Linked DNA regions of Homo sapiens: region 1 is linked to region 2. Evidence: fine-mapped expression QTL. Tissue or cell type: whole blood. Region 2 holds a variant in brackets; the other region holds the start of a gene. All regions are shown on one strand. Distances are between the middles of the regions.

Evidence for each region. PIP is the estimated chance that this variant, and not a neighbour inherited with it, causes the effect.
Region 1: SLC24A3 starts here. The variant in region 2 is fine-mapped to the expression of SLC24A3 in whole blood (GTEx, PIP 0.99).

What each region holds. Positions count from the first base shown.
Region 1 is chr20:19,209,872-19,215,836 of GRCh38, forward strand. SLC24A3 (solute carrier family 24 member 3) reads left to right here and starts at 2,771. Exons shown (of 17, transcript NM_020689.4): 1 at 2,771-3,113. The coding sequence starts at 2,972. LOC101929547 (a long non-coding RNA gene) reads right to left here and starts at 2,597. Exons shown (of 3, transcript XR_007067549.1): 1 at 1,758-2,597; 2 at 193-570; 3 at 1-98. RefSeq lists a silencer at 3,122-3,171.
Region 2 is chr20:19,330,743-19,336,707 of GRCh38, forward strand. The region is part of intron 2 of SLC24A3 (solute carrier family 24 member 3); the gene reads left to right. Among named protein-coding and RNA genes, the nearest start is that of SLC24A3-AS1, 49 kb to the left of the region's middle. The variant AT/A (reference allele first, on the strand shown) is at 3,639.

The sequences.
Region 1 (5,965 bases), 120 kb before region 2:
GTCACGGGAGGCTTTCTATTCTTTGTCCTAAAGGTAGAACTGTGAGAAAGACTAACCAACTTTATTCACCACATCAGGTCCAAAGTCTCTGCAGGGACCTGAAAACAGAATGTTTATGGAAGGTCAAAACAGGGGGAGTAGACAGTGACCCCAGAACCCAGCCCAAGGTGGGGAGGTGCTCTGTAAAGACACCTGTCTTATTCCTGAAAGGGTGAAGACCCCCACACATCTAGGAGTGATGCCTCTCTCTCCAGGAAAGAAATACTCTCAGACTGAAGTATCAGAGCACATTCTTCATTTCAACTCTTGCTCCTTTCACAGTTCGGTTTCTGGAGGGAGCTTCCAAAGACTGAAAGGGACAGGTAGGAAAAAAAATGACTGTTTTCTTTGGAGAGGAGCTCCTGAGGCCTGTCTCACTTGGCCATCACCTGGGGGGCTGAGGAACCTATCAGGTCTCAGTTGCTGTCAGCCTAGGGACCAGGATCCCCACCTTTCTTCCCTAGGTGGTGCCTGGCCGCCCAAGGAATCACTCTCTGTGCTTTACTTTAACAGTGCCCTTCACTCCAAAATCTGTCAAAATGAATAGAAACCCAAGAATCATTTCTGTGTGCCACAGGAGTGCTCTCCCCCGGCCCCCCCGCCCCACCCCGCCACACACACACACATACACTCCTGGTGCTGAGATAATTTCCAAGAAATTACCAGTTCCTGGTTATTCTCCTTCCTCCTGGCTCCCTTCCTAACTCCCCCTCCATCACCAGATTACACAATTCCTTGAGCCTATGGTATTTTCCCCTGGAGCTTGTGTTCATTTCCTAACTCAATTAATTCCAGATTCCCTCTCTCACCTTCTATTTTCCCTCGTTTTCACTAGAAAACACTATTTGAGTGACTTTCCTGGTTAGTTGAATTCTTCTCAGCTCCTAAACTTTCTTTTCTGTGTCTGCAAAAGCTTGATGGAGATAACACAACTAGAGAATTCTCCCCACACACTCCAGCACGGATGAACTCGTATTTTTACACCCTCCTTAGTATCTGCAGCCAAAGCAAAGGGAAAACCACTCAGGCATTGTGGGGGAGGTACTCTGAGTGTCTGGAAGATGCCAGGCTGAGAACAGCAGTCATAAATGATATACCCACAAAGGAAAAGTCTCTGGTCTCCCTGGGTGAGATGGCCTTTCTCTGGAAAGGAGGCCACCTATAACCACTTCCTTTGCCCTTTGCTGTGACCTTGCTGTCCCCGGGCGCTGTCAGGGATTGTCTGGGAGGAGGTCGGGGGGGGTAGGTCAGTCACAGGTGGGGACACATTTGAACAGACCTAGACAGGGGAGCCTTATACAGAGGTTCTCTGCTTCCTTCCCACCTCCTTAGGGTATGAAGCTAGATTCCCTGATCTGAATGGATTCCATGGAGACAGTCACCTAGACAGACACCTGGTTTCAGGTGATCCCTTTCTGGACAAGGTCTTTTGTTTTCAGCGCCCCCCCACCCTCCGCCCCAACAATGGCATCTCCTCCTCAGCCCAGCCAGCAGCCCCAGGCTAGCATCTGGGAAGAGTCCAGGGAAGCCCAATGAGGGAGAGTGGGCTGTGTCTGGGATGGCCAGGGATCCCCTCCAAATGGGCACCTGCGGCAGGTCGTGAGTCCAGCCATCTCTAGGGCAGCCCACACCTTCAGCAAGGAGGGGCAGGAGACCTAGAATGGGGGAAATGGGAGGACTAAGATTCTAACGTTGGAGGTAGGGCAGGCTGGTGTTACCTGCACAAGGCCAGAAGCCTCTTCAGGCCGCCTCTCCAGGGACCGTGCCAGCTGTCCCCACTTCGATCAGCCACAGTATTGGACTTGGTCCAGCACGAACAGAAAGCGAAGTGTGAGCCCAAGACAGAGGGGGGAGCCGGACACCCTTATGGAACTAACAGCCTCTGGGGAGGCCTGTTCCAGATCCCGAGTCGGGCGCACAGGGGGATCCCCGCAAGGGGGCAGAGGGAAACCCGGGAGGCCCGCGAGAAGAGGCGAGGCCAGAGGCTGGGCGCGGGCAGCCAAGCGCACTCGCGGCGCCCCGACTCCAGGTAGCACGTAGAGAGGAGGCTGAAGAGCCCCTCGGTTTTCCGAAAGTTTCCAGCGAATCCTTCTTGGTGAAGATCGGCCTCTGGGAGGCAGCGTGTGTGCTTCCCGAGAGGGGGCCCCCTGCGCCGTCCCTCTTCCCCTGGCACAGAAGGGTTGAAGGACTGCACACAGGGATCCCTCCCCAGCCCAGTCTCCTCCCAGCGCGCCCCCTCCCCGCCATGCCGGCCAGCGCCGGGCTGTGTCCCAGGCACTGCCCCCCGCCAACCCTGGCCCGACCAGCCTCGCCGCTGCAGGCTGCCGGGAGCTGCGCTAGCTCATGCTCCCAGCTCGCTCGGTGCTCCCTGTTCGCTCCGGCCCGGCCCCGGCCCCCATCGCGCCGACCATGGAATAGGCGGGCGGCCCCGCGAGGCGCTCCTGCAGCCGGCGAGGCCAGAGCCAGTCCGGGGTGGCTTTGCCAACCGGCGGAGTTGGCCAGCGGCGGGCCCTCCTACCGTCGGTCCTTCCCCGCTCCTCCTCCTCTGCCCCCTCCGCCCCCGCCTCCCGGCCGCCCCCGCCGCCCCCGCCGCGCCGCCGCCCCAGGCCGAGCGCGGGCGCGGAGCGTGGGAGCCATGGCGCGCGAGGAGGAGCGGGACCCCGAGCGCCGGGAGGCGGCGGCGCGGGCGAGCGGCGAGGAGGAGGAGGAGGGAGGGGAGGAGGGACTGGGCGATAGCGACGAGGAGGGCGACGACGAGGAGACGGGCAGCGGCGAGGAGGAGGAAGAGGAGGCGGAGGCGGCGGCCGGGTGGGAGCGCAGCGAGGACGCGCGGCTGCTGCGCGCAGGGCTGCCTCCTGCCGCTGTCCCCGCCGCGGCCGCCCGCGACAGGAGCGGCCGCCGCCCGCCGAGGCCGCCGCCCGGCCGCCCGAGGATGCGGCCGTCCGGCGACGAGGACCGCGCGCGTCGCCGCCGCCGCCGCCGCCGCCGGAGGGACCTTCTGCTGAGCCAGCTCTGCTTCCTGGCCTCGGTGGCGCTGCTGCTCTGGTCGCTGTCGAGCCTGCGAGAGCAGAAGGGTGAGTGCACGCTGCCTGCCCCGAGTGGGCGCTGCGGCTCCGGCGGCTCGGGGCTCCCGGGGCTGGGCGCGGGGCTCCTTCGGGCGGCCCGGCCGGAGCCCCAGGATAAGCGGGCTGGGTTGGCGGGGGGAGTGGGATGCCAGGCACGAGGACTCCCCCTGCCCCACGCAGAGGCATGGAGGTGGGGACCCTGAGCGCCAGCAGCCAGCAGGCTTAGGCGTCTGGCCGCCCTGGGAACATTTACCTGTGCCCGCCTGTGCGCTGCTTACTCGCGAGCTGGAGGTACTGCTGGTGGCGGTGGTGGGGAGTCTTACTCTCCATCAGCCCCCAAGGCCAGGGATAAAGTTGTGGTGGTAGACCCGGCACCTGTGCAGGTGACCACCTGTATACTCCTTGGCTTGCTGAAGGATTCAAGGGGACTGCTTAACACACAGTTGTCCGTATGTTCTCCATCCAGAGAGCAGGCGGGATGGCCCGAGTAGAGAGCTCTTCAACCCCCTTTCAGAACAGGTGCCGGGAACTTCAGGGAGAGAAAAAGTGTTGGCCCTCCAGCTATGGGCTAGTAGGGGACTTGTTCTCCTAAAATGACCACTCACTGGGAAGACAGGGAATTCTTCCTCAGAGGTCCCTTTTGCAGAGCTGCTGCTGTGGAAGAAATGGTTTGCAGTGGACCACGCATCACACTGTCCGCTCCTCTACCGGTGCTCTGCGCAAAGTCTGCCCTTTAACCCACAACTTTTGTCTTGTCTTTGTCCTTGGCCTTTCTTGAGCTGAAATAGATCTTGTGTGCTCCCAACAGTTGTCTGCTGAAACAGCTTCGATCCTGGGATTCAGCTGTCTATAAAATGAAGGAAAAACATGGGAGAATAACTGTTGTAAAATGGTTTTATATCCCGGCCGTGGAAGTGGCACGATTAGTGGGAAAACAGCCATGTAAAGGGTTGTGAGAAAGAAACAAAACAAAACAAAACAAACAAACAAAAAAACAGTTACAAGTATGTGCTGTGGTGTTGAGGTCGACGTAGCTCTAATGCAAGATGTCATGAGGTGCAGAATAAAGACATTTTGATAGTCACCGTAAAATATTTTCAAAGGTGCCATGAATTTAAAAAGGGATCTCCCCCAGCTTGGCTGGTCTCCTGCTTGGTGGGGAAGTGAAACAGGCGTCAGTCTTCATTCAGTCTTAGCAGACCGCTTGACAGACTTCATCATTTATGGTAATAGCAGAGAGTCCGTCTTGGTCTTCAGTGAAGCTGTTCAAGACTCCACGGCTCTCTCCATTGCTCTCCTGGATCTCAGATCCCGTAGCCTTGGGTTCTGACATCAGGAAGGGGGCCGTGCCGGTGTGAGGGAAGCAGAATCTCTCCCAGGGCAGATTCACATCTGCCAGACTTCTGTCTACTGACAGTCTCACTAAGGGGGTTTTCCCGAATCCCATTTTTATTTTCCTTTTTTATTTTTCTCCAGTGAAAAACCAGTTTATAGTTCATGCCACCTTTGGAAAGGGCTATTCCTAGTGGATTACACGCTGGCCATTTTTTTCTGGTATGTTGGGGCTCTATGAGACATAGAGTTCCCACCACTTTCAAGAATATAAAAGACATTTTTTTCTGGGTGAAGGATGTGACTCATATAGTTAAGTCAATCAGTGACAGGGGGCTGCCTGGGCCCTGAAAAGCTGGGATTTGGGAGGAGAGGAGGCCAGACACTCTGCAAACTTGAAACCTGGGGACTGGAATGTCATTTTGGAATGGTTTCCCTGGTAGTGACATTTCTATTCAGGTGCCACTGACTCAGATTTAGTTCCATAGCACGGCCTTTTCCGCATCCCTCCCTCTGTCCTACCTTTCTCCTTCCTACCTTTCATATTCTTTTTTCCTCTCACTTCCTCTTCCTCCCTTCTCATCTCTGTTGGTCTTAGGACCCCTCCACACCCCAGTAACTGAAGATCTAACAGGCAAAAGCCAAATGTTAAGGAGGATGCCAGCCAGCCTCCCTGTGTTGCCCCCGAATGACATATGAGTTGAAATGGTCTCCAATCACTTTTTTTTCCGTTAGGTATTGATGATTTTGGTATGTGATGCACAGTAGTATTTTGCAGCAAGACACAGGTTTTTCTAGATAATTTTTAACATATTAATTAATGTGTGTGAATCTGCAAATGATAATTTTGCAAGGGGAATTGTCGTTTGGCACACGTAAGCATTTGAATGGTGACTTTTACCCTGGAAACTTGGAGCACACACTACCTAGTGGTCCTTTGGTACAGATACTGAAGTTTGGAATGGAGCATTGTTTCGAAGACCTTGTGGTGTAGAGAGGCTGAGTGATTAGCTTAAAGTCACACAGCATTCGAAGAGTAGAGGAAAAAACCAACCTGAGGTAACCTGGTTTTTTGTTCCCTACTCTGTCCTCATATTCAAACCACCATTTGGGTGTAGCTTTGTAATATTTATATAATCTCATAGGGGGTACCTTCATAATGATCAAAGGTAATATTTTCATTTAGTCACCTTGAAAGCCATGCAGTGATTGTTAAATGTAACTTCTCAGAAGCTCGTTTTCTAACACATATTGACCTTTCCCTCCCTCCTTCCTTCTGTTGGCCCTTCCTCCCTCTCTCCTTCCTTCATTCTTTCTTCCTTCCTGCTCCCTTCCTTTCTCTCTTCTTTCCTCTTAAAATGACAGTTCTTTTACCAAAGCAAAATAGAGATGTGTGATAATTATATTATATGATGTTTCATAACATTTCTAATCATATGGAATCCAAGATCCCTTTCTAGACATCTAACGAAACTCAGATTTGGCTATGTACTGAAAAGTTTTGGTTATATACTGAAAACATTTTCCAC
Region 2 (5,965 bases):
AGTTTTGATGAGGATATTTGCATGGTCTTCAAATGCCTCTCATAAGTGTACAGTGGGTAAATATGACAGCACCTTGACTGAAACTTCCTTGTTAAAGTTAACATCACCAAGGAGACCGATGGTCATGGTGCCCTCCACATGTGATACACCTTCCTTTCTGCAGTATTCTGGCAAGGAAGGCATGACTTGAATCTAGTTATGAGGAAGCACCAGAAAAACCCCCAATGAGGAACATTCTATTGAAGCAAGGGACTGTGTTCTTCCAAAATGCTGAAGTTGTGAAAGACAGGAAGGCTGAGGAATAGCTCCACATTAGAGGAGACCAGGGAGGTGGGACAGCTAATTAACCACACCTGAATCAGATCCTGTACTGGAGGGAGAAGTGCTTTAGTGCATATTATCGGGTCAATTGACAGTTTGAAAATGGACAGAAGTTTAGATAAAAGAGTTGTATCAGTGATAAACTTACTGGAATTGATGAGTGTGCTGTGGTCATGTTAGGGAATTCCTTTATTCCTGGGAAATAAGCATTGAAGTATTTAAGGGTGAGGGGCAATGATGCTTGCTACCTACTCTAGAACAGTTCAGGAAAAATGGTATAGATAGATGGATGGATGAGTGGTGGACAGATAGGTAGGTAGGTAGGTAGATAGAGTAGATATGATTGATAGATGGATAGATAGGATAGTTGGATGAATGCATAGATAGATGATAGAGAGAGATAATAGATAGAGATAGAAATGATATAGATAGATAAACAGAATGCTAACAAAAATGAGTACAATATTGACAATAGGTGAATCAGGGTAAAGTGTTTATGGGAGTTCCTTGTACGATTGTTGTAATTTTTCTACAAGTTTGAAATTACTTCCCTGCAAAAAATAGAATAAATAAATCAGGCCCCCTTTTTATTGACTGATTGATGCCTTCTTTCAGGATTGATTGGGCATTGGTCCATCTCAGGCCCCATCTTTCATGCTGTGAGCCACACAGACAAGCTCCTGATTCTCATGAAGCTTCCATTCTAGGGGGAGGTGTCAGAATTAAGGAATAAACAAAGAACAATTAGAAAGCATCTGATTTTGATCAGTGTTACGGAAAAAGGGAATGAGGAATAGGTCGTGATGGGGGTCGATGGGAGGCGTCCTTTGGATCAGGAGCCATGGGAAAAGGAATTTGATTGAGGGAAGGAGTCATTCCTATAACCAGCCAAGGAAGAACATTCCAGGCAGAGGGACCAGCCGCTGCAAAGGCACCCAAGCCGGAGGGAGACGGAGGTGCTTGAGGAACACAGAAGGACATTGCAGCTGGGGATTAGGGAGAGAAGGAGAAGAATTGGAGCGTCTTGCAGGGCTGGACCATCTAAGGTCTTGTCTGCCATGGTAAGGAGTTTAGATTTTATTCTAAGTAGCAGAGGGAGTCCATGGAAGGTTGGAAGAATGAAGTGACATTAATGAATTCATGTCTCCATATATCACTCTGATTATTGTGTGGAGCTTGAATTGTAGTGGGACACTGAGCAGGAACAGAAGCCAGTGGGCCACCGCTGTGGCCTCTCTGGGGACACAGCCACCCCCTCAACAGGGAGCAAGGCAGCTCCCTGAGCCCCCTTGCCTTGTTTCCCCTCGCCAGCCCTCACCCTCATGGGGTTGATGTCTTTAGGAGTATAGCATGATTCCGGCACACCATCTTTTTTTATTTCTTTTATATCAACACATGTCTTTAGTGAAGTCACTCAATGCCTTTCAGCAACTCTAAAAATTTACCAGGTTTCTTTTTCCAACATTACTTTGACACATGCCAAGAATGACAAAAATGCATCTCTCTTCAACTGACTTCTTTCTGCTGTTGAGCTGCCTTCAGTCTTGAGCACTGGGGAAGAATAAATAGAAACCCAGAATGGGACTGAGGAGACCCAGTTCCACAGGGAGAAAACCACCTTGAGGTTTCAGAAGGGTATTTGGGGGTTCCCAGCGCTCCCTAAAATAGGAGAGGTGGCAAGAGGACCTTGGTCCCATGAACACTCCAGCACTACATGGGATACTCTGAGGACACAGAGGCTGTGGCTTTTCTTGCCTGTTGGTGGGTTCTCTTCTCTGCCTCTATCCTGTGCTACCAGCCACCCTCATTGAGAATTTGGAATTCTTAAGTCTAGGGAGCCAGGACAATTTAGGGAGGATGCTCTAAATAGCTTTCTGGTTTTGTCTCCTCCCAGGGTCAGATGAACTGAGGTTTTTCTTTAGCAGGCTAAAGGGGCTGTGTCTGGGTTCTTGTGGCTAATAGAGGGCTGTTTTGTTGTGGGATCATCCTGCCAGAAACTGGGAGGGCCAGGGAAGTGTCCTTCAAAGCTGTGAGTGATTCTTTAAAGAGGGGCAGTGGTTGTAAACCCTTCACACTTCAAGCCATGTGGCTGTCTGTCTGTTTATCTGTCATCTGTCTGAGGAGTGAGGGGATGTGTAGTGGGACAGTGGGTGTCCCTGGAAAGAAATTTATCCCTGACATCAGTAGTTGTGGTCAGACATTCAGTTGGTTATGAAGAGTGGTACCCTTTTATCTTCCCCCCTGGACTTAATATTTATCTGCCCTAATGCATCTGTTCATTACAACCAGGGTGCTCAAACTAGGGGCTGAGAAACAGATTCTGGTGGGAGCTTCAGTGGCCCCAGCAGATGCAGGAGTCTTAGGGGGAAGTGACAGATTTGGCCTGTTGCAAAGAGCGGTGTGGGAAGAGAAGGGAATTGTTTCACCAAAGCGGTTTGTGGTATCAGTAATAATCAGAGAACTAGGGAGAAACGAAATTTTTTAAAAGAATACATTTTTGTGTGGGAATTTGTATTTCGTTGAGCAAACAATATGTTACTGGTGAGTCCAGTCTTGCTAGTGTGTGTGTGTGTGTGTGAGTGTGTGTGTGTGTGAGAGTGTGTGTGTGTGTGTGCAGTATAACTGATTATTTTACTGCCCTGGGGATTAGGTGAGTTGATGACTGAACACGGTAATTCTGAAAAATGGAGGGGAAGGAGCGACATTAGTATAACGATTGCATATTCTGTTGCCTAGCCTCAGTGCCAGTAAATTGTCCTCCACCACACATGACTTGGTCTTTGATTTTTGAATGTAGCCATAAGGTTCTTAAGCTGGAATAATGTGTGAGGTCAAACTGCCTGTTTCCATTTATGGTGAAAGAAGACAAGAAAAGACATGGTTGTGCATCCTGTGAGTATACTAAAAAAGGGTGGAATTGTACATTTTCAATGGTTAAAATGTATGACAGGTGCATTATATCAGAAGAAAAGCTGTTAAAAAAAAAAAAAGACAGCAAAGAGAAATAGACAAGTGTGACTATGAAGAAATCAAATTGTAAAAGTCACACAGGAAACAAAACATGTAAATGGGTGGTCGTTGTCTCCGTGAGTATGGTCCGTTTATCCTAATGACTTGTTATTGGCCAAAGGTCCTGAGAGCCAGACTGTGGGAATAGCTTTCAGAGCCTGGGATGTATTCCCTTCAGTATTCTCAGTGCAGTCAAATGTTGTCCTTGGAGAGTGGCTTGATTTTTGGAGATAGCTAAAATAATTCAAAAGTGGGTTTGGTAATTAAATAAAATGATCAAACTGAGAAATATCAACACAGTAAAAAAA[AT/A]AAAGAGTGCTATGAAGCATACAAAAGTATATGAAGTATATCAACACAGTAAAAAAAAAGAATTCTGTAATGTAAGGCAACAGACTTAATTTTTTTCTGAGCTCTCATATATTGATTCCATAAGTGATCATCTTTTTCACTGGTAAAGTTGGCTAGTTTTCAAACACCAAGATTCAGTGCCAACATCAATGTGACTGTCTTACAATTTGTGAACTACCAGTGAAGTTCATTGTCTTAGGTGGGTTCCTAAAGAAGGCAACCCAAGTCAAGCCAATTAAGGGAATTTCAGCAAGCAGGTGATTGCTGTGGGCAGCTGGGACTCATTGCAATTTGGCACCTCTGGGAGCCTCTGTAGGACACGCCTCAGAGCTCTGTAAGCCAGGAAACATGGACGCTGGGGGGCTCATCTGCTGATTCCCACCTGCCATTCGCTGAGCCCTGCTTCTAGGGGTGTTTGTTGGCACTGCTGGCTTGACCCATCCTGCATGTGGGCTGAATGTCCCCTCCCAGCCAGAAACTAAGCATACAGACACAGGGTTAGCATGTCAGTGGTGAACAGCCTCTGCTGTGCCATATGCAGGAGATAGGCACAGAGCACTGCAGCACCTGGTACTTTAGTCTGAATCAGAACTTTCTTTGATGATGGACATATTCTCCCTCTGCACTGTGCAGTAATATAGCTTGAAATAGGACTGGAATATGACTGAAGAACTAAATTTTTAATATTATTTAATTTTAGTTTAATTTTAAATAGCTACATACGGTTATTGGCTACCATCATGGATAGTGAAAGTCTAAATAGAATATTAGAAAATGAATCCCTCAAAGTCTCATAGTCTCAAAGTTAGGAATTAAGAGGGCTAGAATGAAATGAGTGGTGTCCACGGATATATATCCACTGCCCCTTAAATCTTGTCTTTTCTACTTTAGCTGGATGGGTTTCCAGCTTCTCTTAGCCCACAGATAGGACTTTGTGTGCTCAGCTGAAGATAATTGCTAATTAATGAAATTCAACAGTTTTTTCGAGGACCACTGTAGGAAATTGCTGTGGCCCTGCATCCTAGCTCTGCACACAGAGAACAGTAATTGCTGGAGCCTTCAGTGATAAGGAATTCATTCCTGTAGGACTGCCCAAGTGCTTGACTTAGCCCAGATAAAGGCTGCTCAGGTAAATATTGTTGCAAGGGGGTTACTGGAATTATGCCTCCAGCTCAATGCCCATATTTGAAGATAGTAATGGTTAGGCAATTTTGCCTAGTCCTTTCCAGATTCAGTGTATTGACCAGCTCTTGACTTTTAAGGTGAAATAATTGAAGCTGGCAATCAGATCACTGGGTCAAGGGTATTCAGAAGATTATTCACACCTGTTTCTGAAAAGCATCCTGCATGATCAACAATTCATTTTAAATTGAGTTAGCATCAATTAACTTGTATTGAAAATGGGTAATGATGATGTAGAACATACATGACCAGTGTGTGGGATATTTGACTCATTTCATGCCATCTTTCTCCCTTATTTTGCCCAAGACAGACATTGCTAATCAATCACAGTGCCCTTTCATGTGGACCCACCATATAGCCCCTGGGTCTTTCTTAACACAACATCTCTGGTACATAATTGCAAGTCCATCAAGATGAATATGTTCAGTAAGAAATAATTAGTCATTTCTGTCATAACATAACAATGGGTGATTCAGATATCACTTAGAAGTAAGACTTTAATAGACTACTTGTTGTTTCTTAACTCCAGGGAGTGAGGGCACCAGCATTACTGTGTATTTCCCCTCTTCTCTCTCTGTCCTTTAGGCCAGGGCTCGGGAAACTACCCCCGTTTTTGTGAATAAAGGTTTACTGGACATAGCCCATAGACACACCTGTTGGTTTATGTGTTATCTGTGGCTGCTTTTGTGGTAGAACAGTGCATTCAAGACTGTTTGACCTGCCAAGCCTAAAAGATTTACTACCTTGCCCTTTATAGAAAAAGTTTTCTGACTCCTGCCCTGGGCATTTTTTATTTATTTATTTATTTTTTTGAGACGGAGTCTCACTCTGTCACCCAGGCTGGCATGCCGTGGCTCACTGCAACCTCCGCCTCCCGGGTTCAAGCGATTCTCATCCCTCAGCTTCCTGAGTAGCTGGAATTACAGGCGCCTGCCACCACACCTGGATAATTTTTGTATTTTTAGTAGAGACCAGGTTTCACCATGTTGGCCAGACTGGTCTTGAACTCCTGGCCTCAATCTGCCCCCACTTGGCTTCCCAAAGTGCTGGGATTAGAGGCGTGAGCCACTGTGCCCGCCCGCCACCCCCCACCCCCCACCCCCCA